Regions from separate parts of the Homo sapiens genome. Here regions 2 and 3 are each linked to region 1. The links come from fine-mapping of genetic effects on gene expression. A gene starts in region 1. Each other region holds a variant in brackets. All regions are shown on one strand. Distances are from middle to middle. Region 1 holds the start of TNNT3 (troponin T3, fast skeletal type). Region 2 overlaps LSP1 (lymphocyte specific protein 1). Region 3 holds the start of PRR33 (proline rich 33).

Evidence for each region. PIP is the estimated chance that this variant, and not a neighbour inherited with it, causes the effect.
Region 2: its variant is fine-mapped to the expression of TNNT3 in CD4 T cells (BLUEPRINT, PIP 0.92).
Region 3: its variant is fine-mapped to the expression of TNNT3 in whole blood (INTERVAL, PIP above 0.99).

The regions. Positions count from the first base shown.
Region 1 is chr11:1,916,195-1,924,364 of GRCh38, forward strand. TNNT3 (troponin T3, fast skeletal type) reads left to right here and starts at 3,509. Exons shown (of 16, transcript NM_006757.4): 1 at 3,509-3,568; 2 at 6,663-6,697; 3 at 6,854-6,867; 4 at 7,361-7,378. The coding sequence starts at 6,681. It also overlaps a transcript of PRR33 not described here. RefSeq lists a silencer at 227-276 and an enhancer at 827-876.
Region 2 is chr11:1,863,763-1,871,932 of GRCh38, forward strand. All of the region lies in intron 1 of LSP1 (lymphocyte specific protein 1), which reads left to right. Among named protein-coding and RNA genes, the nearest start is that of MIR4298, 8.3 kb to the left of the region's middle. RefSeq lists enhancers at 6,839-7,377, 7,378-7,915. The variant C/T (reference allele first, on the strand shown) is at 3,622.
Region 3 is chr11:1,888,583-1,896,752 of GRCh38, forward strand. It overlaps LSP1 (lymphocyte specific protein 1), which reads left to right. Exons shown (of 11, transcript NM_002339.3): 11 at 3,191-3,681. PRR33 (proline rich 33) reads right to left here and starts at 3,313. Exons shown (of 1, transcript NM_001395380.1): 1 at 1-3,313. The coding sequence starts at 2,002. The coding sequence ends at 563. The variant CTGGA/C (reference allele first, on the strand shown) is at 4,867.

The sequences.
Region 1 (8,170 bases):
TGGGCCCTGACACTCAGCCCTGCAGCCTTCAGCGTCTGGGAAGTCCCTTCGAGGAGCAGCACCCCAGACTCTGATGTTCTGGACTTCACTTTGCCATTCCCTTGGGTCCTCACAGCCACTATTTTCTGAAGGCTTCATGTCAAACCCTGCTTGCCTCATGAATACACACAGTTCAGAAAAGCAAAACCTCGACAGAGCCACCACCCACACAAGGGAGGTGACGTGCCCCCATCCTTTCTCAGATGCCCCAGCCACTGAGAGAGGATCCAGGCCACCCTCCCCAGCTGGGGAACCACCCAGTGACAGCACTCCCCTTGTTTCCCACCTGATCCGCTTGGGACGGTGACCAAGGGCAGCCGAGAGGCAGGCCCAAAGGCCACAGTTGGGCACTCAGCACTGGGGTGCAGAGTGGACAGCACCAGGGGCAGGGGGTAGTTGGGGTCAGCAGTGCTGAGGAGGCAGCCACTGCCCACCCCGCCCCCGACCAGCCCTGGCCCCTTGTCAGATCATCTGCACCCCTCGGCTCAGCCTCGAGAACAAGGACCCAGGGCCTGTCCCTCTGAGCTCTACCCAGCCACAGCCCTGCTGTGTTTCTGATGCAGCCTCCCGTCCACGGCCACAGCAACCCCATGCCCCTGCTCCTGGAAACCTGGAGGTCAGGCCATGCCCAATGCGGAGGTCAGGAGGCTCAAAAGGCCTGCAGCCTAAGAGGCCCCTGGCCAGGGATGGCAGATGAAGCCCCTAGCCTCTGTCCTGCCTGCCAGAGCAGCCACCAGACACCCTGTGACCCTTGCTACAAGCCCCTAGGCCAGCCACAGAGAAGACACCCATCATATCTGCAGAACGAGTCAATGAAACTGCAAAATCAGAAGCACTAGGCATGTGGGGAGGCAGCTACCTAGGGCTGGAGCAGCTCAGTTCCCAAGTGCTGTGTCAGCTGCTCCTGTCCTGGGCCTGGCAGTGATTGAGCCCACAGCTGGGCCGAGCGGCCTCAGGCTGGATCCAGCCTGGGGGCTCAGGTCAGCTCAGGGCATGAGGAGAGGCTCAGGACCCTCTTGGTCTCCACCACCCCCAACCATGCGCACTGGGTGCTGGGACCTAGATTGAGGGGCCCCGGCCACCATCTGGGGGCCACCCAGGCAGGGAGCTGCAGCCAAGACACTCAGGAGGCCATCCTCCCTCCCACAGCCTGCTCCCCACTCCCTGGGCTTGGCTCAGCATTTGCCAATTTCAGAACCCCCCCATCCCCCAACAACTGCCCTAGAGCCAAGGCCCCGTGGTCCGTCCTCAGACTCCTCCTGGGTGGAAATGCGTCCCCAACCCAGGCTGGGCCTCCCTTGTGCCCTGCCCCCACCCAGGTCTACAGTCCCCCAGGAGGCCCCTGCCCTGCCTCCTCTCCTTGGACCATCCCGGTCCGGCCAGATGGCAGCAGGGCATGGGTTACCTGGTGCAGGCCCTCGAGGCCGCTGGTGCCTGCTCTGTGCAGTCCCTGCTACGCCTCAGGCCCAGCGCCCGAGGGGGAGGTCGCCGATACCCAAAATAAAACCTGCCCTATCCCTCTGACCTCAGCTGGCTGGGCGGAGAGCGCCTGCCAAAGCTCCAGGAGCTGGGCGGGCAGCACCTTCCCCTGCTGGCCACACGGGGCCAGTGCAGGGTTATGGCACACCCACCTTCAGGTGCGCCCCTCAGGACCCCTGGCCTGGGTGAGGGCTTGGGTGGGCACAGGCTTCCTAGGCCTGCAGACTGAACCACGTGTAACCAGAATGGTGGGCTCAGGGCTCCGTTAGAGAAGCCGGCAGAGCGAGCCTGGAAAAGGAGGTTGGCCCCACCATGGGAGAGGATGGGGTGGGCCCGCTGACCCCCAGGGACCCGCTCACGTGCCTCTGAGGGAGCAGTTCTGCAGATGTCCCCAGTGGGCAGGAAGCTGGTCACAGATATCCAGGGGCCAGGGCTGTTTGTGGCCCCCAAAGCCTTGCCCATCGAGGACATGGACAGGGAGGGGAAGGCGTGGAATGCAGACGAAGCCACAGACCCAGAGCAGGAGGACGGCGACGTTCCCAGCAACCCCAGCTCCAAGAGCCTTCCCAGTGCCGGGCACTCAGCGGGAGGCAGGCAGGGGACCGGCCCTGTCCTTTGAAATGGCAGCCTGGGGCCAGCCCGCCTTGTCGTGTGACCCCAGGCACACCTTGCCTGTCCCTGGGCTCTGCGGCCTCGCTCTTCCATGGAGGGGTGGAATGAGGTGCCAACCACAGCCTTCCGGAAGGCCCCCGACCCGGCCCCAGGGCACTGTGAGCCCCTGCCGGGTTATCCTGTTGTCCCTGACTCTAAGCCTGGGGAGGACAGGGACCTCATCTGTGCCTCTCGGGACTCACCCCTGTCCTGGGCGCTGGCCAAGAAGGAACCAATCTGTGCCTGAACCGAAGAGTTCCGCAGACACCACCGCCCACGCTCAGCCTGTGGGGTCTGAGGGGAGTGAGGGGGTGGGTCAGGGTGCCAGACTGCTCTCCCCCACCTGGTGCCTCAGTTTCCCTGATCCAAGAGGCAGGGTTATCCAATCTGGTGGCCTCACTGGCCAGCATACAGGCCATCAGAGGCCAGGAAGGATGTCTGCTAGTCGGACGGTGCCACCTGGAGTCCTGAGGAAAGAAAACCAGTCTCCACACGCCACAATGAGCCTGTGGGAGATGCTGGCACAGATGGTAACGGCCACTGCGAGTGCCCAGGGTGGGGCCCCAGGGTTAGAAAGGGCCTAGAGGGAGGACCCAGACCCTTACCCAGCAAACTCCATGTGTAGCCCCCTGCAATGGCAGCAGCCCCGGGGGGAGGTATGGCAGACTCGGACTGCAGCCAGCCTGGCCATGTCCCTCGCCCGCTTATTGTGTAGGCCCCAACGGTGTCTAGCCAGGAAAGCAGAGCTGGCCTCTAAGAGGGTCTCAGATAGGGTGGGGGCCTGGCCTCAGTTCCATGGGGGGTCTCCGAGGCCTCAGGCTGCTTCCTCCCCGGGGGAGACAGCGAAGGGCCTGGGGCATTGGGCCGGGCGGCGGGAGGGGACCCCGGCTGTGCGGACCCTTTTCCTGGACAAATGTTTACTCCCACAGAACATCTCAGAGAGAAGGGGCGGGGGGGTGGGAAACCCGGCAGCCTGGCTCTGGGGACCCCCACACTAGTTTGGCCCAAAGAGAGCCTCGGCTTGGTGCCCCGGGGCCACCCAACACCTTCCTCCTCCCTCCTCAGCCCATCCAGAATGTACCCGCTGCTGGGAGTAAAAATAGCAGCTGACACCTCCTGGAGGCGGAGGGAGGACCTTGCCTCCTTCTCCAAGCACGTCCTCTGCATCCTGGCCTCCTTCAGCCTCCTCCTCTGGCCATTCCTATACTTGGTAAGGGGCCTGCACGGGCATAGCCCCCCCCAGCAAGACTCCGCACACACCCCGGCCACCCAGTCACTGGCCAATGGGCTCCTAGGAAGATCAAATGTCACTATAACACGAGGGTGTGAGCCGGGCGCCAGTGCCTGCAGCCGGTGCTGTCCACAGGGAGCTCCAGCCCTTCTCACACTCGACCCGCAGGTGGGTATAGGCAGGAGCGGCCACCCAGGACTGGGGCCGACGGGGCCTCCTGCGTGCGGGTGGACAGCCCCTCGTTCCAGGGACACTCTGGGGTCCTGGGGCGCTGAGGTCCCAGGTCCGTGTGGTGCCGAGCATCTCGAAGCATCATGGCTCGGAGCCCCCAGGTGGCTGCTCCAGCGTCCGGAGAGTCTGGGATGCGGACATGGTGGTGTGATGGTCTCAGCACCGGGAGGATGCAGAAGAAGGCAGAGTGTGGGAGGCCAGGAGGGGGCAAGTCGGGGCTCAGGGAAGCTCAGTGCTAGGGAGTGGCCTGAGGGCAGGAGGCAGAGAGGTGCGGGCTGTGAGCGGCAGGGAAGAGGCTGTGCAGGGGTGCTGCCAGGGCTTAGGTTGCCAGCTTGTGGTCGCCATGCAGACATTTGCCCAGGCCCGTCCTGGCCTTGCCATGCAGCTCTCGCACCTGGGCCTCCAACACCGCCATTTTGTAGAGATGAAAACGAGGACAGGAGGGCAGGGGCTCCTGTATGGCCAGCCCGAGTGTGTTGGGGTGGGGGCGTCTAAAGCCCACGCAGCCTTGGGGGCCAGCGTCTGGAGGTGCAGGACAGAAGTGGACAGGGGCTGGACTGGGGCAGGACGGGGCAAGAGTGAGGGGCTGGGCTTCATCGCGTCCCCCTGGCTGGAGGCTGGAGAAGCTGGCGCTCGTAAGAGCCCCCACCCACCCTCCCTGCCCTGGACACGGTCCCCCTGACTTGTGCCGTCTGATCAGGCCTTGGCTGCCCCTCCTGAAGTCCACGGAGGGACATGGGGCAAAGCAAAGGTTGGCTGGGTGGAGAACAGGTCTGGGGGCATGGTCAGGGCCACAGCAAGCAAGGGGCAGCGGCTTTTGCCTCCCCACCCTGCCCTGGCCCCGTCACCTCCCAAGGAGGGAAAGGTGATGCATACGTGCCCGAAGAAACTGACCGCATAGGTTATTTTCACGCAGCCCCTCCAAGGCAGGCACTAACTGGACACCTGCTTTGCGTCTCAGCTGTTGAAATGCCATCCCCTGCCCCCAGCACACCCCTGCCCCCAGCACACCCCTGCCACCAGCCCCTCCCCGCAACAGAGGCAATGACACAGGCCATACTGGGGGGAACAGAACAGCCTTGTGTTGCTTCCAGGCGCTCAGCAGAAAACCAGGTGCCTCAGTTTCCCCACTTGGAGAGTGGGCCTTTCCAGCGCACGTCGGGGGGCCTGGAGGTCACCCTGCCTGAGGGTGTTGGGGCACCCATGTGACTCTGGCCTGGGGGGACAGGAGGGAAATATGAGGAGCTGGGGAGGGCCTGGGTGCCCGAGGGTGAGGGGGCAGCTGTGGGCCAAGGAGGGCTGGGCTGTCACACCCGCCTCACCCACGTCTTGGGTTTCTGGGCAGAAACGTCTTGCCTATTTCTGGACACCTCAGCTGCCACTGGCTCCTTATAAATAACCCACCCCAGGCGAGGGCCACGCTGCCCCCATCTTGTGGCAGCCGACAGGTGTCTGCCCCGCCAGCGTCGGGCTGGGCACAGCAGGGCGGGGCCAGGCTCCGCTCCCTCCCTTCACTGACCCTCCTCCTCCTTACAGAGGATGGCCCTAGAGGAGTCTGTGGCGTTTGGGGCCTGAACCAGCTGGGAGGACAGCACGAGGGGCTGGTGGGCAGCCTGGGACTGGGTCACACCGGGGGCCTGGACAACACTGGCTCGTGGGGCTGAGGACTGAGGAGAGCCTGGCCCAGCCGTGGCAGTTACAAGAGGCTTAACCTGAGGGGCAGCAGAGTCTCAGGAAGAGATTCTGGGATAGGAAAAAGCTACCCCCGTTGCCTGGAAGACAGCTATCTGCTGGGTAATTTTGCATGGAGCTTAAGTTGCTCTGGGAAAATTAACATTCTTGACAGAGGGTTTGGAAAACGGTTCCCACCTCAGCAGTGCAACGTAGATGCATTTTTAGCTGATGAACGTGTGTTTTCCTTATACAACACTCCCAGGGGGGACCGTAGCTATTGTCTTCGAGTAATCTGTACTGTGTTGTAATGAACTTTGTTTTCTAAAACCCTGGCCAACATGCCGGTGCAGCTGCTCAGAGCCTCCCCAGGCCTGGCCGCCCAGTGTGCACGGTGGCCAGCTCACAGAGAGACGGTCCCCAGCATGCTGGCCTGGCGCCACCACCGCACATGGACAGGGCAGCCAGTCCTGGGCATGGAGCTTCCCCTAGACAGGGACAGATCCAGAGCATCCCCGGGACCAGGGAAAGCGGCCACAGGGAGGGAAATGGGGGGGCTGTTCTGTGGGCTCCTGCAGTCCAAGTATGCCTTGTACAGAGCCCGGCCCGGGGGGGTGCACGGGAAGCGGCCCAGACCCAACCCAACGTGCTCTGGGGCTCAGCCTCAATGTTTTCAGGGTACAGGGGTAACAAGAAGGAACAGCTTCCCTGCTCTGTGATCTTGGAGGAGGGGTCCTCAGAGGGGTGTGGTGGGACACACTCTGGGCACCCCATAGGAAAACAGGCACAGAAGGGAGCTTTGGGCTCAAATAGGGAAGAGGGGTTCTCATGGGGAATGGTAGGGTGAGCAGATTACTCATCTTGGGGAGCCAGTCTCGGTCATCCAGGGGCTCCCAGGGAGACCCCACCTACACCCACTGGGCAGAGAACACCCAGAGACAGGTTTCAGCTCCATCAGCGGGACCTTTCCAGTGTCTAGAGCGGGCTGGACGGCACACGGCCTGCATTCTGGATGACCCTCCTCAGGGGACGCCACGGAGAGGATGTCTGCCCTGGGTGGGGGTGGACGCCACGACCTTCCAACATCCCTTCCAGCTCCAAGATTCCAAGCTCCAGTCTGGAGCCAGGGCAGGAAGAGGGGACAGAGTCTGGGGCGCCAAGAGCTGGGAGGGGCCAGGAGCCCTGGAGAAAGGGGAGGCCCAAGGAGGTGGACTCACCCAAGGCCAGAGCTGGCCCCCAAACCCTGCCCGCGGTCCCCCACAGCGCTGCTCCAAGACCCCATCCCCCATCCTACACCCAGGCAGCTCGTAACTCTCTTTCCATCCTCTCTCTCTCTCTCTCTCTGAATCTCTCTCTGCAGAAACCACCCACCTTCACCATGTCTGACGAGGAAGTGTGAGTACCCAGCTGGTGGCTGCCCCCTGCCTGGCTCGGGACCCTGGCCCCTTGGCTTCTGTGGGGCTGGAGCATGCGCTATCTTGCACAAGTCCAAGCAAAGCCCAGCCTCACTACCTCTCTCTCTTTCTTTCTCTCTCTCTCCCTGCCCCACAGTGAACAGGTGGAGGGTAAGTGTAACAGCCATTTTCTTTCTACTTCCTGCTCTAGAAGGAAGGCTCACATGTGGGCAGGGGGCTGGACTGTGCATACCCTGTGTCCCCTTGACAGCCCTACATCAGCTGCATCCCATGGGTGGCTTCTGAGTGACCCCCGGAAAACAGCTGTCCAAGTGGGGGGCCTCGTCTTTTCCCCGAAGTGTGGCCACATGGTCCTGAGGGGCCTGCAGGTCAGGCTCTGGGTCCTGTCTCTCTGCTTCTCTCATGCCCACTGTGGGACGTGGGCATCCAGGACCCCCGAGCCCCCCAAAAGCCACCATCATCACCAGAGCCTCTGCCTTCCCCAGCGCCTCCTCAGGGCCCGAGGACCCCTGATTCCACGCTCTTGGGCAGGGGCAGTCGCTGGCCTGTCCAGGGCCGGGACACACTGGCCTCTCATCCTCCTCCTCCCTTCACGGGCTGCCCCTTCTAACGTGGTTCCCCTCTTTGTTCTGTCCCAATGCAGAGCAGTACGAAGAAGAAGGTAATTCTGGCAACCACCGGAAGCCCCCCCAGCCCCTCCTTGGAACTTAACCCCCCTCTCCCGTGTGGCGCTCACAGAACCCCCTCCCCAGGCTGCTCCAGGCCGCCTTGAGCTTGTCAATCAACCTTCCATCTTCCTCATCATTAGTCACTAACAATCACCATTCATCATTAATTAATGATAAATGAGGCCACCACTTAATTAATGATGGATGAGTCATTAAATCATCACTAACCCCTGTCTCTTTAATCGATTAATATGCATTCACGATCCTTCATTAATCCTTCATCCTCCGTGTGCCATGGTGTGTGGAGTTCACTGGGGCTGGTCATGAAGGCCTCAAAACACCGAGTGCCCTGCGTGCCCAGTGCTGCTGTCTCTCTGCCTCTCTCTCTATCTCTACCCTCCCGGCATCTCAGAGTCTCTCCATCTCTCTCCAGTTCCTTTCCGTGTCTCTCTTGGCAACTTTGTCTCTCTGTGTGCCTGTGTATCTCTCAGCTTCTCTCTGTCTCTGTATCTTTCAGCCTCTTGGTCTCTGTCTCTCCCTGCCTCTCTCTCTCAGTCTCTGTCTTTCTTGGCCTCTCTGTCCCCATTTCTCCACCTCCATCTCCATCTCTGTCTCTCTGTGTCTCCATCCCTCCATGCCACCCCCCAACCCTGTGCTGTAACCCTGGGTGGAGCCTGGAGCCCCCTCCCTGTGCTGGCCAGGTGTGGTCTGTGGGCGTCTCCATCGTGCCCGGGCAGGCGTGGGCGGGTGTGGGCGCACCTGGGAACCGTGTGGGGTGGCGGTTC
Region 2 (8,170 bases), 52 kb before region 1:
AAGGGGGGCCTGGCTGGCGAGGGCACCAGGCCCACTTTGTGCCCACTGGCCACCTCTTGGGACCATGCTGTGCCAATACCAAACCGAAGATGCTGCGTTGGTGGCGTCTCTGCCTCTTGGGTCAACTCTGCAGTCTGGCTGGGGGGTTGGGCCCACCAGGAAAGGCAGCAGCCTCCCCATTTGGGGAACAGAGAGGGTTCTTGGGGTGCCAAGCCTTCTCTGGAGGTGACAACAAGAGCAGAGGCCGGGAATGAACAAAGGGAAAGTGGAGAACCAGGAGCGGGGGAGAGGGGAGGAGGGGAGAGGAAGGGAGGGGAGGGGAAGGGAGGGAGGAGGGAAGGAGGGAGGGAGACAGAGATAGGGACAGAGACACCAGAGGGAAAGGAGAGAGGAGAGAGGGGCTGAGTGCGAGACGGGGAAGGAGGGGACGGGACAAAGAGGAACCAGCGAAGGGTCCAGGCCTGCGATGATGGTGAGGGAGGTGGCAGGTTGACGAGGGGCTGGACAAGAACGGCCGACGAAGGAGAAGAACAGAGGAGGGCCCGGGCAGGGCCTGGCAGAGGGCATGAGGCACTCCGAGGTGGGAGGCGGCGATGGGCAGAATAGGCCCCTGTGCCTGGGGCAGGGGCACCACAGAGGGCTAGGGGAGACCGAGAAGCGGGCAGCGGCTACCAAGGTGGCCTGAGGGCAGAGGCGGAGGGAGGAAGGGAAAGAGGAAGGGAGGGAGGGAGGGAAGGAGGCAGCCACGCTGCCCATCAGCGCGCCACAGAGGTCTGGCTGAGCCCCACGCTGCTGGGCTGGGAGAGTTTTCGCTCTGACATTTTTACTCTTCTCGGAAGGAGGAGGAGGTGGAGGTGGAAGAGATGGAGGCGGGAGGAGAAGGGGGCTGGGGGAAACAAAAGAGAAGCAGCTGCTGAGAGTCCTGAAGTAGGAGAGGGGAAAGGGAGACCCACAGTCAGGGAGACCCACAGGGATGGGGACACAGGGACCAGGCTGCCTGCAGGGAGCCGGCCTGCAGACCCTCGTGCCAGGAGCCGAAGGGAGGGACCAGGCTGCCCACAGACCCCTGTGCCAGGTGCCAGAGGGAGGGACCAGGCTGCCCAAGGGAGCCGGCCCACAGACTCCTGTGCCAGGGGCCAGAGGGGCCAAGACAGGCAGGCAGAGGGTCACAGGGACAAGGAGAACACCAGACAGAGAGAAGGGACAGGGGAGGGGTGACAGCCAGCGAGAGACCGAGGGCCAGGGCAGAGCGCCAAGGAAGTGCAGGAGTGAGAGGGGCCAGGAGAGGCAGGAAAGCCAAGGAGAGCTGGGCACAGGGGGGCAGGGGTGCGGGAGGAGGGCAGCAGAGAGGAGGGCCAGCAGGACAGGAGCCTTTGAGATGCTGCTCTATCCCCGGGGCTGGGGTCAGGCCAGGTCGCCGCCTGAGCAGAGGCTGCAGCCTGGGCAGTCCCGGGCTTCTGAGGAGGAACTCTAGCAGACAGGGCCTGGATACCTCTTGAGGTAGGTCCCTCCTGCCCTGGCTGGGCATGGAGGGCAGGGCAGGGTGCCCATGCTGGGCTGCCACATGCACCGGGCCACTGGGCCTCCCCCCAGCTTCGGTAGGCTCTGCTGCCCCAAGCGTGGGCAGCGAGAGGGTGCCAGGCTGGTTGCGTGTACATGTGTGAGTGCGGAGGCTGCTTGAGGCCTCTCTTCCTCCTGGCTCCTGGCAGCTGCCCATGCATTCTCCTTCCCCATCCCACCTGCACTGCCGGCTGCGCTGTCGCCTGCTCACACCGTCCCACCCGCACCGCCGGCTGCACTGTCACCCGCTCACACCGTCCCACCTGCACCGCCGGCTGCACTGTCACCCATTCACACCATCCCACCTGCACCACCGACTGCACTGTCACCCGCTCACGCCGTCCCACCTGCACCGCCGGCTGCACTGTCACCTGCTCACACCTCTCCCCGAGCCCCAGGGATTCTGCTTGACTCTGAGCCCCCAAAATGAAGGGCCCATCCTCTGGGTGGCTTCTGGGGCCTCCCGTGGGGTCCTTCGGATCCTGGGCACCCTTCAGTCACCCTCACTTCACAGATCATGAAACTGAACTTTGGGCTGAGCTTACCGGCCCTGGCTGCAGCCACCAACCCTGAGTGGGAGGCTCCTCAGGGCCAGGGAAGGTGCCCGGGCCTTGTCCACCTGCAGGTGTTGGGCCAGTGTGGTGCCCTCTCCCAGCCTGTTTCTTCCTCTGTAAAGTAGTGGTGTGGCCCTTCATGGGGTCAGGTGGGAGAGCAGAGTTTGGAGGGCCCAAGGCTCCTCAAGACCCAGCCTGGGCAGTCTCAGAGATATCCCTCTGCACCGTCAGCCACTCTGAGCCGCCTGTAGTGCCCTTTCTCCTCCTCAACCCTTCCAGGCTTTTAAGCCAAACTGAAACACCACCTCCTGCTTGAAGGCTGCCTTGCTTCTTCCTAACCTGGAGGGCTGTCCTGCTCTGACTTCCTTTGATGGCATGGAGCATGCTGGCCGGACCTCGAGCTACTGGAAGGCAGGGCTGGCATCGGTCGGCTTGCCACTGCCCACCCAGGCCAGGCACTCAGTGCTGAGACTCTGAGAGGCCAGAGAGCCAGGGATGCCCATGGGGGTGAGCTAAGTGGGGTCTGAGGAGTTGAGGGCAGCCCGGCTCACCCCTCCTCCCCAGCTCCCACTTGTTGGGTCCGTGCAGATGCAGAGAGATGGCTCCGATCTGGTCCCCACCTGGCAGGGTCTCCGGCTGTCACCTGAGTTCAGGACCAGCACCAGGATCTGCAGTGGGCCCCTGGCTGGGCACACCTCATCCCAGCCTCCCCCTACCCCTGGCCCCCCATAAGCCTCCTCCTCCTGGGCTTCCAGGCTCTGCTGGTCAGACCTCCCTCCCTGCCCAACGGGAATGTGTTTTCCCAGGGGACGCTGCTGTCCACCAGGAGCTCTGTGGCCTGGGATTTGAGGAGTGCCTGGGGTCAATCCCCCAGGCTCACCAGTGCTACTTAACAAATGGGCCCAAGAGAAGGAAGTGCAGCCCCCGGAGGAGGGGCAGAGCCCCTGCCTGGCTGTGCGGTGGCTCACCCCCTTGTCACCAGGGGCTCGGCCATGAGCATCCGTCCAGCGGGCCCAGCACCAACTGCAGCCCCAGGTGAGCAAGCCGCACTCAGGAGGCACTGAAACCGTGTGGGCCCAGGCTCGGGGCCAGTCCCTGTGGACCTGGGGAGGAGACACTGAAGCCGCGTGGGCCCAGGCTCAGGGCCAGTCCCTGTGGACCTGGGGAGGAGGCACTGAAGCCGCGTGGGCTCAGGCTCGGGGCCAGTCCCTGTGGACCTGGGGAGGAGACAGTGAGGAGGGGACCTCACTTGCGGTGGTCAGCCAGTGGGTTGGTGGCATAAGGACCCGTCCCTTTGAACTCCCTTGGAACTTGTCCTGATGGGGGCTGGGCAGAGGGCAGCAAGAGTCCCTTGTCCAGCTAAGGGGAGCCACCAAGGTGAGCTACATGAAGCAAGGCTGACACGTGTGCACTAATACACACCCCCTCCAGGACACAGACCCAGAGGCCGCTGCACCCCACCCACCCACCACACCCACACACACACATGCACACACACACGACCACC[C/T]GGGACAGTACTGCGCTCACCACCACTGCCATGATCTCTTCTCTGCAGCCTCCAACAGCTCGGACTTCCCCAGTCCCAGCCCTGCAGGCCAGGCAGACTGCCCCCTACCCACTCCCTGTTGGATAAAGGAGTGAGCCAGGCTCAGAGAAGCTGTGGGTGAAGAGACTTCAAGGCCACTCAGCCGGGCATGATGAGCCCGGGTCCCTGGGTCCCTCCTCCACCCGCATCACCCCACCCCTTTCCCGGGGACCCCTTGGGTGTCCTGCCATGTCAGGTGCAGGGCTGGGAGAGGCATTGCAGGCAAAGTGCTGTGTCCTCAGTGATGAACCCTGAAGGGCCATGCTAGGTGCCCGCAGCTGCCAGGGAATAAATTCAATGCAGTTTACATCCATTAAAAATGGTGCTCTGGGCCAGTGGGAAAACGTGTCCCCCCTGCCCCGTCGCCCCCCACCCCTGCCCCAGCGATTCTCCTTGTCTACACCCAGTGCAAGCCCAGGGGCTCTGCATGTAGTCCCATAACACCATTTTCTCCAGGTCTGGCTGTACCCAGCCCCTGCCAGAATGCGGCTTCTGGCTGGCAGGGTCAGGCCCTGGGCTGACCTACCCCCAATGCCTCCCTGCCAAGTCTGCCCTTCCAGGCACCTGGGAGTCTGCCCTGTGCCTCCTGCCTGCCCCTGGGCAACTCGGGGCTCTCCCAGGGCCAGCTCGGGCAAGGCAAGTGTTAGGGATGGTCAGGGGACCTCAAGAGGACTTCAGCCCACTCAACTCCAGACGTCACCCGGACTCAGCCAGCGGCCTGGCCCTGCTACCTGTGGGGTCCTGGCTTTGTGAGAGGGCACCAGGCCGGCTGAGAGTGCCTTGTAGCCTGGCCCGGAGTGAAGAGGGGGGCTGGGGATCAGCCTGGCAGACGTTCTTATCAAGCATTGAGGTCCCCGGAGCCCCGTGCCCACCCTTAGCCATGGCTCTTTGGGCGGTGTGAGCCCCTCCATTCCCTCCATCTCGGGCACACATCTGCCCACACATATACAGATGTGGCAGCCACACCGTGCTTGGCTCTCCGCAGGGCTCTAAGGCCCCTCAGGCAGGGACCCACCCTGAGCAGCCTGGTCCAGGGACCTCTGGGGCTCCTGATGTGGCCAGTGGGGCAGGAATGGGCTGGCAGCCTGCTGGGCTGGCCCTGAGGGGGCTGGGGGAAGCCAGGCCTCCAACCACAGTGTCCAAAAGGGTGTGGCTGCCTTGGGCCCATCCAGGCCTGAGATCCTGAGGGTGGGGTAGCCCCCGCCCTGGCAGGGCTGGAAGTCGGTCTTCGGACAGAGCCCGTCCTGCCCAGAAGCCCAGGCGAGCCAGCAGCAGGGGTGCAGGGACCGAGTGGCCCAGCCCCCTGGGCAGGGTGTCAGGGCCAGAGCCCAGAGGACGGCGGTTCAGGCTTCAGTCCCAGCCGGCGAACCAGAGCTGGGCAGAGCGGCCAGCAAGCGGCAGCCAGGGTGCCCTGGGCACTCGACCCCCAGATGCCCCTGCTGGAACCGTAAAGGGGAGGCACCCTGAGGCCAGAGGGAGCATGGCCCCGGGGACTGAGCATCCGGCTCAGAGCGGCTTGGCAGAGGTCGGTGGACTGGGGTTAACCACAGAGGTCTCTGGAGGGCAGACAGGAGCCACTGCAAGTGGGAGCTTGTGGGAGAGAAGCCCTTGGGTGACCCCTGGATGGGGCGGGGACCATTAGGGAGAAGGGTGAGGGGCTTGGCCCCTGCCCCAGGCTCCAAGTGGGCTGAGACCCGGGAGGCTTGAGGGTCGGCTGCTACCCATGACGGGTTGGGGAGGTATTGGTGCGAGCTGAGGTGGTGCTTGCGGAGGTGAGATTGAGGGCCGGGCCTGGCCAGGGATGCTGGGAGGGGGGCAACCCTGTGCCTGGGGCTGTGAGGGTCTCTTGACGAGAACAAACCCTACCTGGGGAGAAGTGACAGAGAAAAGAAAGAAAGAAAGCGAAGGCACGAGAAAGAAATGAGAGAAAGGGAGGGAAAAATGCTGAGAGGGAGGGAGAGCAGGGGCTGCCTTGAAGGAGGAGGGAGGGGGAGCAGAAGCGGGTGCAGGGTGGTGGCAGGATGGGAAGGGCAGAGGGAGGGGCTGAGGTGCGAATGGAAGCTGTGTGAGGGTCCCGGGCACTGCCCCTTGCCGCCGACCCCAGGTGTGGGAGGAGGGGTCTCTCCCACGTGGGCCGCACCTAGCAGGTGCCGGGGCAGAAGGCTCAGAGCCGCTGTCTCACACAGCTTCTTGGTGCTCCAAAGACGGGCGGTAGGAGGAAGATCAAAGAAGCGAGAAATGGATGCTGGAGGAACGCAGTGAGGCCAGGCGAGGGCTGGCGAGCTTGCCAAGGAGAGGGCGGGCGAGGAAAATGGGGCGCCCCACAGAGGAGGGGGCGTGGGGGGGGCTGGTTTTCCCCGAGACTGAGAAATGAATTTCTGCACCCGGACTGGGACCCCCTGGGTCAGGACCCTCCACTCACATTCAGGAGCAGCACCTCTTCTGGCCTCTGTCCCTGCCTGGTCTTCCCCACACCCGGTTCTTGGGGGTTGAGGGGTTGGAGCCCCAGCCACGTCATCAGCTCCCTGGGACCCCTGCGTGAGACGTGAGAGGTGCACCTCCGAGCCTCCGTTTGTGCATCTGTAATGGGGATGATAGGACTGCGCCCCTGGCGACCATTGTGAGGACGGAGGCGCTGGCTGCACTGGTGCTCACTGTGCCTCTTTAAACGGGGATGTCTGGACCTCTGGTGCAGAGGACCAAGGCCGGTCCACTTGACCTCAGCCATGAGGACATCCCAAGGCCATGTGAGTCTCCCACGGCCCACTGAAGCTGGTCCTTCATACCCCATTTTGCAAACAGGAAAGCTGAGGCTCAGGGAGGCACCAAAGCTTACTCCCATCCTGGGGCTTGGCAGGGGGTGCCCGCAGCACCCGGGGACATACACCGGGGAGTCTCCTGGGAAAGAAGTGCCGGCCCAGGGGCAGACTCTTTTCTGCTCTGCCATGTCTTCCCTGCACCCCCAGGGATGATGAGTCTGGGAGGGGCTGGTCAGCCATGAAAGCTTCGGGGAGGGGCCGGTGGCCAGGCCGGGCACCCCAGAGCTCCACAGGCAGACATGGTGTGGGGGTGTCAGGAAGAGGGCCTGGCTGCTGGGTGCTACGGTAGGAAGATCCCGGTGCTGTGGGAGTGGAGCAGGTGGTTGAATGCCAGGCTGGCTTGGTCCTTCTCTCTGGGTGCCGGCTGTGGCTCCCGCCCAGGTGGGCACCACGTCTGAATAATGTATGAAGCCTCTGGTTGCGTGGAGGATGGGAGCGCTTCGGGCAGCATCTGTGGGCAGAGACTTCAGGGATGTGAGGTACATCTGGGCATGGCTAGCTGGGAAGGAAAGAGGATGGCAGAGCCTCGAGCCGTTGCCAGGGACTGGTTGCGTGTCCCAGAACGTGCCAAAAGCCTGCCTCGTGAGCACGGCAAGAGCTCTGCCAGGGCAGTCCCAGCTGGCCCAGGCGCCGCAGCGCTCCCGAGGGCCGTCGAGCAAAGGCGGGAGGCGCAGCCGGGCTGTCGGTGGACCTGTAGGTATCAGGGCTCCTTGGTCCCCTCCTGCGGGAAGCAGGCACCGAGTGGGGCTGCATGTAGACGCATGCGAGGGTGAGAGCTGCGGCGGAGGACGCTGATCGCGGAGTGCAGGCGAGGGCCCCAGAAAGGTCCCGCAGGTCGCCTCGCTCGTGGCACGGGCTCGGCAGCGTTGTGGTTAGTGACACGGAGGAAGACAGAAAGCCATATGCACAGCACGCAGAACAGGAGGAGGGGGGAAGAAAGAGCAGGCACGGGGCAGGCAGAGCCGCAGCCACGCCGCCGGGATGCAGCAGGCAGGGCCACCCACGAGCAGGGCGGGGCCCTAACCTCCGACCCAGGCTGGTCGCCGCAGATGGGGGCAGAGATGTGAAACAGCTGCAGAGCGGGACAAGGGTGCTGCCGGCACAGGGCTGACCACAGAGCACATCAAAAGAGGTAGGGCACCCAGCGCAAGGGAGGTGATGGGCTGGTCAGCAGGACATCAAGCCGGTTCTGGACCCTGCTCTGAGGACGGTCCCTGACCCAGCCTCTGAGGACCAATGGGAAGCCAGGGGTAGAGGGGTTGGGGGAAACCAGGCTCCATTTTCCAGTCTCAGCAGGGGGCCAAGGCTTGCGGCTCTGCGGAGGCCACACCATGAGGTTTCCAGGGTCATAGATGCCCTTTGGTCAGCGCTGTCTGCCGCTGCACGGGCACCCCTCCTGTTGGGTGTCTGGGTAGACTTGGGGGTCTGTCCGGCTGGCGTGGGCACCTTTGGGAGGGGGGTGTGTGTGGCGGGCAGGCCTGGGCTGTAGTCACCCCAGCCCGTGCTGGTAGAGTTGGGGTCTGTCCGGCTGGCGTGGGCACTTTTGGGACGGGGTGTGTGTGGCAGGCAGGCCTGGGCTGTAGTCACCCTGGCGCACGCTGGTAGAGTTGGGGTCTGTCTGGCTGGCGTGGGCACTTTTGGGAGGGGGGGTG
Region 3 (8,170 bases), 28 kb before region 1:
GTCCCACGCTGGCTGAGGGCTCCCCCCTGCACCCTAGTCCCAGGATCTGGCTCTGCCATCAGGAAGCACAGGCAGCAAAACTGCTGACTGCTCCTGACGCCGATGGCCAAGCCAGCCTGACCGCACCCATGCCTCAGCAAGCAGAGATCTGGCCCCAAACCTTTGACAGCAAAAGGTGACAGCAAAAGGGAGGATCAGTGAGAGGCCCAGGCCCCTGAGGAGCCTGGGCTAGGTCAGTAGATGCAGTCCTCTGCCATCTTACCTAAAGTTTTCATCCCAAGGCCCCCATCCTACATCCCGACGCAGACCCCTTCTCTGTTCCCCTCACACCACTGCAGCCCAGGGGCTCCAGCTCGTCCTCTCTGCCCCGTCCACCTGACCACCCTCCTAACCATGCAGACTTCCCTCAGCACCCCATGTGCCCTTCCCAGGCTGCCCTGCACCCCATGCCCCTTGGGCCCTGGTGCATCTTCATGCAGCAACTATGGGCCCCCAGCTAGAGCCTCAGCCCCTTCTTCTGTCCATCCCATGGTCCTGGGCTCTGGGGGCCATTCTGGCCACTTCACTGGAGCCTCCAGCCAGTCGCTGTGCGGTTGAAGTTCTTGGGCTGGGGGCTCAGCTCCAGGATGGAGCGGACTGTGGGAGGGGGCCGGGTGGCCTCCTGCAGCTTCCGGGCGTTGAAGCGAGGCCGGTACAGGAAGGGCAGGCGGGTGAGGCTGGCTGGGGTGTGCTCCCCACCGCTGGGCCCTGCCAGGCGCCCTTGGGCCTCCGCCACTGACATGCGGTACAGCACGGCATCCCACATCCTGGAGGTCCGGGAGGCGGGGGCCCGGGGTGCGGTGAGGGCGGGCACCTCCTGCTCTGTGGGGGCAGGCACCTCCTGCTCTGTGGGGGTGGGCACCTCTGGCTCCAGGCTCTGCCGCGGCTCTGGGCACGGAGGCTCTGGGGCCTCCTCCAGCAGCTGCTTCTTGAGCCACGTCCAGCCACTGAGCCGGGGCTTGGGTGCAACTTTGGGGACAGGGCATGGGTGAGGGCCTGATGGTGGGGTAGGGGATGAGGCCCAGGCAGGGCTGGACACTCGCTCGGCCTCAGCGGCGGGGCCAGCCATCGGGGGCTCCTCCAGGTGCTCTCTGCCAGGGCCCATGGGGACCAGGCTGTGCGGTGAGGACTCCAGCGAGCGGCAGGTCGGGGCTATGGGCACCACAACCCTGGCACTAGCCTCTCTGGGCACTGAGGCCTGGAAGCCGGGTGGCGGCCGTGGTACAGGGGGCTCCTCAGGCAAGGGACTGGCAGCCTGGACTGTGGTGGGCAGTGGGCGGATGTGAGCCACTGGGACCAGGGGCTGGGCCCTGGGGGGACTTGGGGTGGCATCTCCATCCTGGCTGTTGGATCCCACTTCTGGGGCTGTCCTGGGAGGCTCAGGGGTCCCATTGTGTGGGGATGGTGCCAGCTGGATGTGCACCTGGGTGACGTGGGTGCCCCCACCCCCAGAGACAGGGACGAAGCCACTGGGGGGCCGGGTAGGTTCTGGGGCCGAGGCTACAACCTGGGGCCCCATGGCCCTGAATTGAGCAGCTAGAATCCTGCGCTGGGTGAGGCCGATGGAGAACGTGGACTTCTGCAGGGGTGATGCCACGTGGTGGATGATGGGGGTGTGCGGGGAGCGGGGTAGGGCAGCCACCATGCGGGGAGCCTCGGCGGGGCGTGGGGCTTCAGGAAGGCGTGGGGCTTCGGCGGGGTGCGGGCCCTCAGCAGCGTGCGGGGCTGTGACCTCCTGGTCATGGCTGGCCTCACTCACGGGGGACAGGGAGGTGCGGAAGGCCCTGGGTGGAGCGAGGTGTGTGCCTCCCATCATCTTCTTCCGGGCTGCCTTCCTCAGGAGCTTCTGCAAACGCAAGTTGTCCTTCCCTGGCTTGGGCAGCAGGGGCGGTGGGGGTCCAGGGGTTCCCTGGAGGCTTGGGCCGCACACCTCGGGTGCCATCGACGCAGCCGATATGAGCATGACTGTGTCCTAGGGTGGGAGGGACAGTGGTCAGGCCAGCCCTCCTCCCTCCTGAGGTGGGAGGCCTGTGTCTCCTGTGGTCCAAGGAGGACCTGGGGCCAGGGGTGTGGAGGCCTGAGTATTCTGCTTCCTGAGCACCCAGAACCTGCCAGGGACATGCTGAGCTCGACTGTGCCTTGGGGACTTTGGGGTGGCCCCACCATCACCCTAGTGTAGAAATGAGGCCACAGAGGCCGAGTCCCTCCAGGGATGGGGCTAGAACCTGCCTCCAGGGCTCTGTCCTCCATGCCACCCCAGCACAAAGCAGGCCCCAAGTACACAGCCTGGGTCAGGCCGCAACACCGTGTGGGCTGGGGTGGGAGACGGAGACGCGGGTGAGCCCCAAGTGACAGGCATGCCCCTGGCCAGCTGCTGGCCAAGCCCAGGGCTGGAAGAGCGGCTGCCCCCAGACACGTGAGGGGCGCCCTGTTGTCGCCGGCTCAACCACAGGCGCGTCCGCTGCGAGCCAGCGGTGAGGGGTGGCGGCCAAGAGGCTTGGGAAAGCCGAGGCTGCATCATCAGAGGTAGATTGGCCGGAAGGTGGGAGCAGTTTTCGCTGAGCTATGCTAAATGGGATATTCCCGCAGACCTCCTGTCTGGGGTGGCCCGGCCAAGCCGCCCACCCTGGTTTCTGGGCACCACGTGTTTGCAAGGACATTGACAAATGGCATCTGTCCGAGCCAGAGGCTCTCTGGTTTGGGGAAGGAGGGAGTCCTGGGGGCTGCCGCTGGTGGGGGCTGGCTCTGCCAAGGCAAGAACAGAGCTGCTGGAGGGGTGGGGGCGGAAGGAGCCTGCTTAGGACTGCTCTCAGCTACCGGCCTCCTCTGGATGACGGGACTGCAGGAACCACGAGAACCCCAGTTCTAGCTCCCAGGGTGGGCAGGCTGCTTGGCAGGCAGGCCGCCTTCCCTCCACCAGGAGTCAGGTCTCCAGCCAGAGGTCCTGACCCAGGGCACAAGTGCTCGCACTGGGAAGCAGGCCTCTGAGGCAGGACGTCTTCTCCTGTGGTGGAGTGGGGGTGTGGGCAGGGCAGGGAGGCCAGCAGAGAGAGGCTCGGGGAGCAGGCTCTGTGGGCTTGCAGGAGGCAGGTCTGTGGCCCCTCCCTGGACCCTAGCCTAATGCCCCCTGCACCCCATGCCTATGTTCCAGCTTCCTGGGTCTGCAGGTCCAGCCGGCTGGCACCCTCCATGTACCCAGGGGAGATTCCAGCCAGACACCCGCCCCCCGGCCCTGGCTAAGAAGTTGCTTCCTGTTGCCAGCATGACCTACCCTCGCCTCTTTGATGCCATCCGCTGCCACCTCCTTTTGCTCCTGGACCCTTTAGCCTCTCTGCCCTTCCACTCTCTGACCACCGCCCCCGCCCTCCCCACCCAGCTCCGCTTCTTGTTACTTGGGGGAGGAAAGAAACTCCTGATCATTGGCCAAAGGGACTTACCCCTGGAGAGGCCAAGTGCCTTCTAGGAAGTTAGGAGGTTGAGGCACAGCCTGTGCAGAGAGGGTGGGTCACCCCCCCAGATCCAAGGAGAAACTGCAGGTCAAGGGCTGATAACGGCCATGCAGGATGCTTGATGCTGCGTCCCCCGCTGCTTGCCGCCCCCCACCCCGCCATTTTGTATAATAAAGCTCCCTGTGTATTCTCATGTGCTGGCTGTCTTGTACTCACTAAGGGGGCAGGGCTGGCCAGGATGGAAATGTTGGGCCAGTGGCCAGCCCATTCCCACACTGCACAGCATGCTGTGGCCTCTGGGTTCAGGCAGTCTGACCTGTCTCATGGCCTTTGCAGTATAAGACGCCAGGACATAAGCTCTCTGGTGGCCTAAGTCAGAGCACACACAATGGGTGGGGTCCGGGCTTCCTTTTCCAGAATGTCTGTGATATCCCTACCCCAACCAGGACTAGCCCAATATAAACTTCTGTGCCTTGACTTCGCACCCACTGAGGGCAAGATCCACCTCGGGGCCTCCCCCAACACCACACAGGAGGTGCTCAGTGAAGGTTTGGAAAACAGACAAATGGGTGGATGGGTGGGTGGATGGATGGATGGGTAGGTGGGTGGACGAATGGATAGATGAATAGATTAATGGATGGATGAGTGGATGGATAGGTGGGTGAATGGATGGGTAGGTGGGCGAGTGGATGAATGGCTGGGTGGGCAAGTGGGTGGATGGATGGATGGGTAGGTGGGTGGACGAATGGATAGATGATCAGATGAATGGATGGATGAGTGGACAGATAGGTGGGTGAATGGATGGGTAGGTGGGTGAGTGGATGAATGGCTGGATGAGCGAGTGGAGGGATGGGTGAGTGGATGAATAGGGGATGGATGAATGGATAGAGGGATATGTGGATGAGTGAATGAGTAAGTGGGTGGGTGGGTGGATGGATGGATTGATGGATGGATGAGTGGACGGATAAGCAGGTGAATGGATGGGTAGGTGGGTGAGTGGATGAATGGTTGGGTGGGTGAGTGGAGGGATGGGTGAGTGGATGAATAGGGGATGGATGAATGGATAGACGGACATATGGATGAGTGAATGAGTAAGTGGGTGGGTGGGTGGATGGATGGATTGATAGATGGATGGATGAGTGGACGGATAAGCAGGTGAATGGATGGGTAGGTGGGTGAGTGGATGAATGGTTGGGTGGGTGAGTGGAGGGATGGGTGAGTGGATGAATAGGGGATGGATGAATGGATAGAGGGATGTATGGATGAGTGAATGGGTAAGCAGGTGGGTGGATGGATGGACTAATGGATGGATGAGTGGGTGAATAGGTGGGTGAATGGATGGGTGGGTGGGAGGATGGCTGGCTGGCTGGCTGGCTGG[CTGGA/C]TGGATGGATGGATGGGTTAGTGAATGGATAGGTGGATGGATGAAAGGAGGGATGCATGAGTGGATAGGTAGATGAGTGGATGGATGGATGAAGGGATGGCTGGATGAATGGACAGAGGGAGAGAGGGGGGATGGAGGGAGGGATGAGTGAGTGAATGGGTAGGTGGGTGGGTGGATGGATGGATGGAAGGAGCGATAAATGAAGGGATGGGTAGGTGGTTGGATGGATGGATAGATAGATAATGGAGGGATTGATGAATGAAGGGATGGATGCATGGATGGGTAGATGGATGGATGGATGAAGGGATGGATGAGAGTGGATGGACAGGTGGATGGATGGATAGGTGGATGGATGAATGGAGGGATGGATGTGTGGATGGGTAGATGAAAGGATGGATGAAAGGACGGATAGATAGATAGGTGAGTGAGTGAATGGATAGGTGGATGGATGAATGGAGAGATGGATGAGTGGATGGGTAGATGGGTGGGTGGATGGATGGGTGAAGGGATAGATGAATGGATGGACAGAGAGCGGGAAGGATGGATGGAGGAAGGGATGAATGAGTGGATGGGTAGGTGGGTGGGTGGATGGCTGGAGTGTGGGAGTGTGTGTGTGTGTGTGTGTGATAGGGCCTCACTCTGTTTCCCGGGCTGGGAGTGTGTGTGTGTTTGTGTGTATGTGTGTGTGTGACAAGTTCTCTGTTTCCCAGGCTGGAATGTGTGTGTGTGTGTGTCAGAGCCTCACTCTGTTTCCCAGGCTGGGAGTGTGGGAGTGTGTGTGTGTGTGTGTGTGTGTGTGTGTCAGAGCCTCACTCTGTTTCCCAGGCTGGGAGTGCAGTGGCACAATGAGAGCTCCTTGCAGCCTCAACCTCCTGGGCTCAACGGATCCTCCTGCTTCAGCCTCCCAAGTAGCTGGGACCGCAGGTGCCCACCACCACACCTGGCTAAGTTTTTGATTTTTTTTGTAGAGACGAGGTCTTGCTATGTTGCCCAGGCTGGCTTCAAACTCTTGGGCTCAAGCGACCCCCCCTGCCTCCACCTCCCAGAGTGCTGGGATTACAGGCATGAGCCCTGCACCCAAGGGTTTGTGCTTTTTTACAGTGTTACATAAATGGCATCCTGCAGCACGCACGCACTCCTTGTCTGACTTCTGTCACGTAGCATAACTATTCTGAGATCCATGCTTGCTGCTGTGTCTGTTGTAAACACTCATTTTTATTGCCACAGCATGGGTACACCCCAACCCGCTCATCTGTTCGTCTCTTGGTGGACATCAGGGTGGTTTCCAGTTTTGAATGATGGAAAGTAATGTGGCCATTTACATTCACACACAGGTTTTCAGAAGGACATACATTTCCTTTACTCTTGGGGAGAGGCCTAGAAATAAAACGACTAGATGCCGTGGGAGGTGTGTGTGAAACTTGTTCAGAAACGGCCTAGCTCTCATTTCTTGTTGCAGTTGGAATGGTTCATCTCGCTGACTTTGGCCCTTCCTAGACGTGGAGGGTGCGGTCTGTGATTTTGGCTTGCGTGTCTCCCGGCACCAGGGGTGCCGTGCAGCTTTGCACGTGCTACTTCACCACTGATACATCTTGCTGGGGGAAGCATCTGTTCAGATCTTTTGCCCGTTGCTGTAAAATTGGGTTATTTGTTTTCCTATTGTTGAGTTTGAGAGTTCTTTCTTTCTTTTTTTTTTTGAGATGGAGTTTTGCTCTTGTTGCCCAGGCTGGAGTGCAGTGGCGCCATCTTGGCCCACTGCAACCTCCGTCTCCTGGGTTCAAGCGATTCTCCTGCCTCAGCCTCCCAGGTAGCTGGAACTACAGGCATTTGCCACCACGCCGGGCTAATTTTTGTATTTTTAGTAGAGGTGGGGTTTCACCATGTTGTTCAGGCTGGTCTCGAATTCCTGACCTCAAGTGATCCGCCTGCCTTAGCCTCCCAAAGTGCTGGGATTACAGGCGTGAGCCACCGTGAGAGTTCTTTGTATATATTCTGAATCAATCCTTGATGAAATAGATTTGCAAAGATTTTTCTCCTGGTTGGTGGCCTTGTCCTCTCACCGTTAACCATCTGAAGAGCAAATTTTAAACATTTTTGATGAATTTCAGTTTGTCAATTTGTTCTTTTAGGAATTGTGCTTTTGGTATCATGTCTGAGAAATCTTTGCCTTATCCAGAGCCATAAAGATTTTCTCCTGTGTTTTTATGGCTCCAGCTTTACATTTAGACCCACGATCCTTTTTGAGTTAATGTTTGTGTATAGTGTGAGGTACGAATGCAAATTATTCTTCTTTTTCTTTTTGCATATGGAGATCCAGTTGTTCCAGAATATGAAATTGCTGCAGCATGGTTTCTTGAAGAAGCTACAGTTGTGCACCGAGTCGCCTTTGCACCTTTGTCAAAAGTCTGAACTGTGCATGGTGGTGGGTGCCTGCGGTCCCAGCTACTTGGGCGGCTGAGGTGGGAGGATCCCTAGAGCCTGGGAATTTGAGGCTGCAGCGAGCAGAGATTGCACCACTGCACTCCAGCCTGGGCAACAGAGTGAGACCCTGCCTGAAAAAAAGTCATCAGTCTGTGTGTGTAAGCTGATTTCTGGACCGTTTTCTTTTGGATCTACTTGAATATTTTTACACCAGTATCACTCAAGTTTTGCTTACACTGGTCTTATATGAATTCTTAGAATGTTAGCTCTTCAATTGTGTTCTTTTTCCGGATTGTTTTAGCTCTTCTCCTCCTCTGCTTTTCCATATGTGTTTTAGAATGGACCTGTGAATTTCTATAAATGCAGGGAGAGTTGACATCTTAACAGTATTGAACTTACTAATCCACGAACCTTGGATGTCCCTATTTATTCAGGTCTTCTTCCACTTCTTCCAAGGATTTTTTACTCTTTCAATTTGGAGGTCTTTCACATCTTTTGTCAGATTGACCTCTAAGTATTGTCTATTTTTATACAGTTAGGAAGTGGTATTTTTAATGTCAATATCTGATAGTTGATTACCATTTTATAGAAACACAATGGACTTTGTATATCAGTCTTGTTATTCCACAACCTTGTTAATCTCACTGAGTAGTTCTTGCAGGTTTTTCTTTTGTTGTTGATTCCATCGGGTTAGATGGTCACGTTATCTGTAGATAAGATTGTTTTCTTTTTCCTTTCTCGTCTGTATGGCTTTTATTTCTTTTGGGGGCCTAATTGCACGAGCAGGAACCTCCAGGTCAATGTTGGACGGAGGTGATGAGGGCGGACATCCCAGCCTCCTTTCTGTTCTTAGTGAGAAACTGTTCAGTCTTCCGCCAT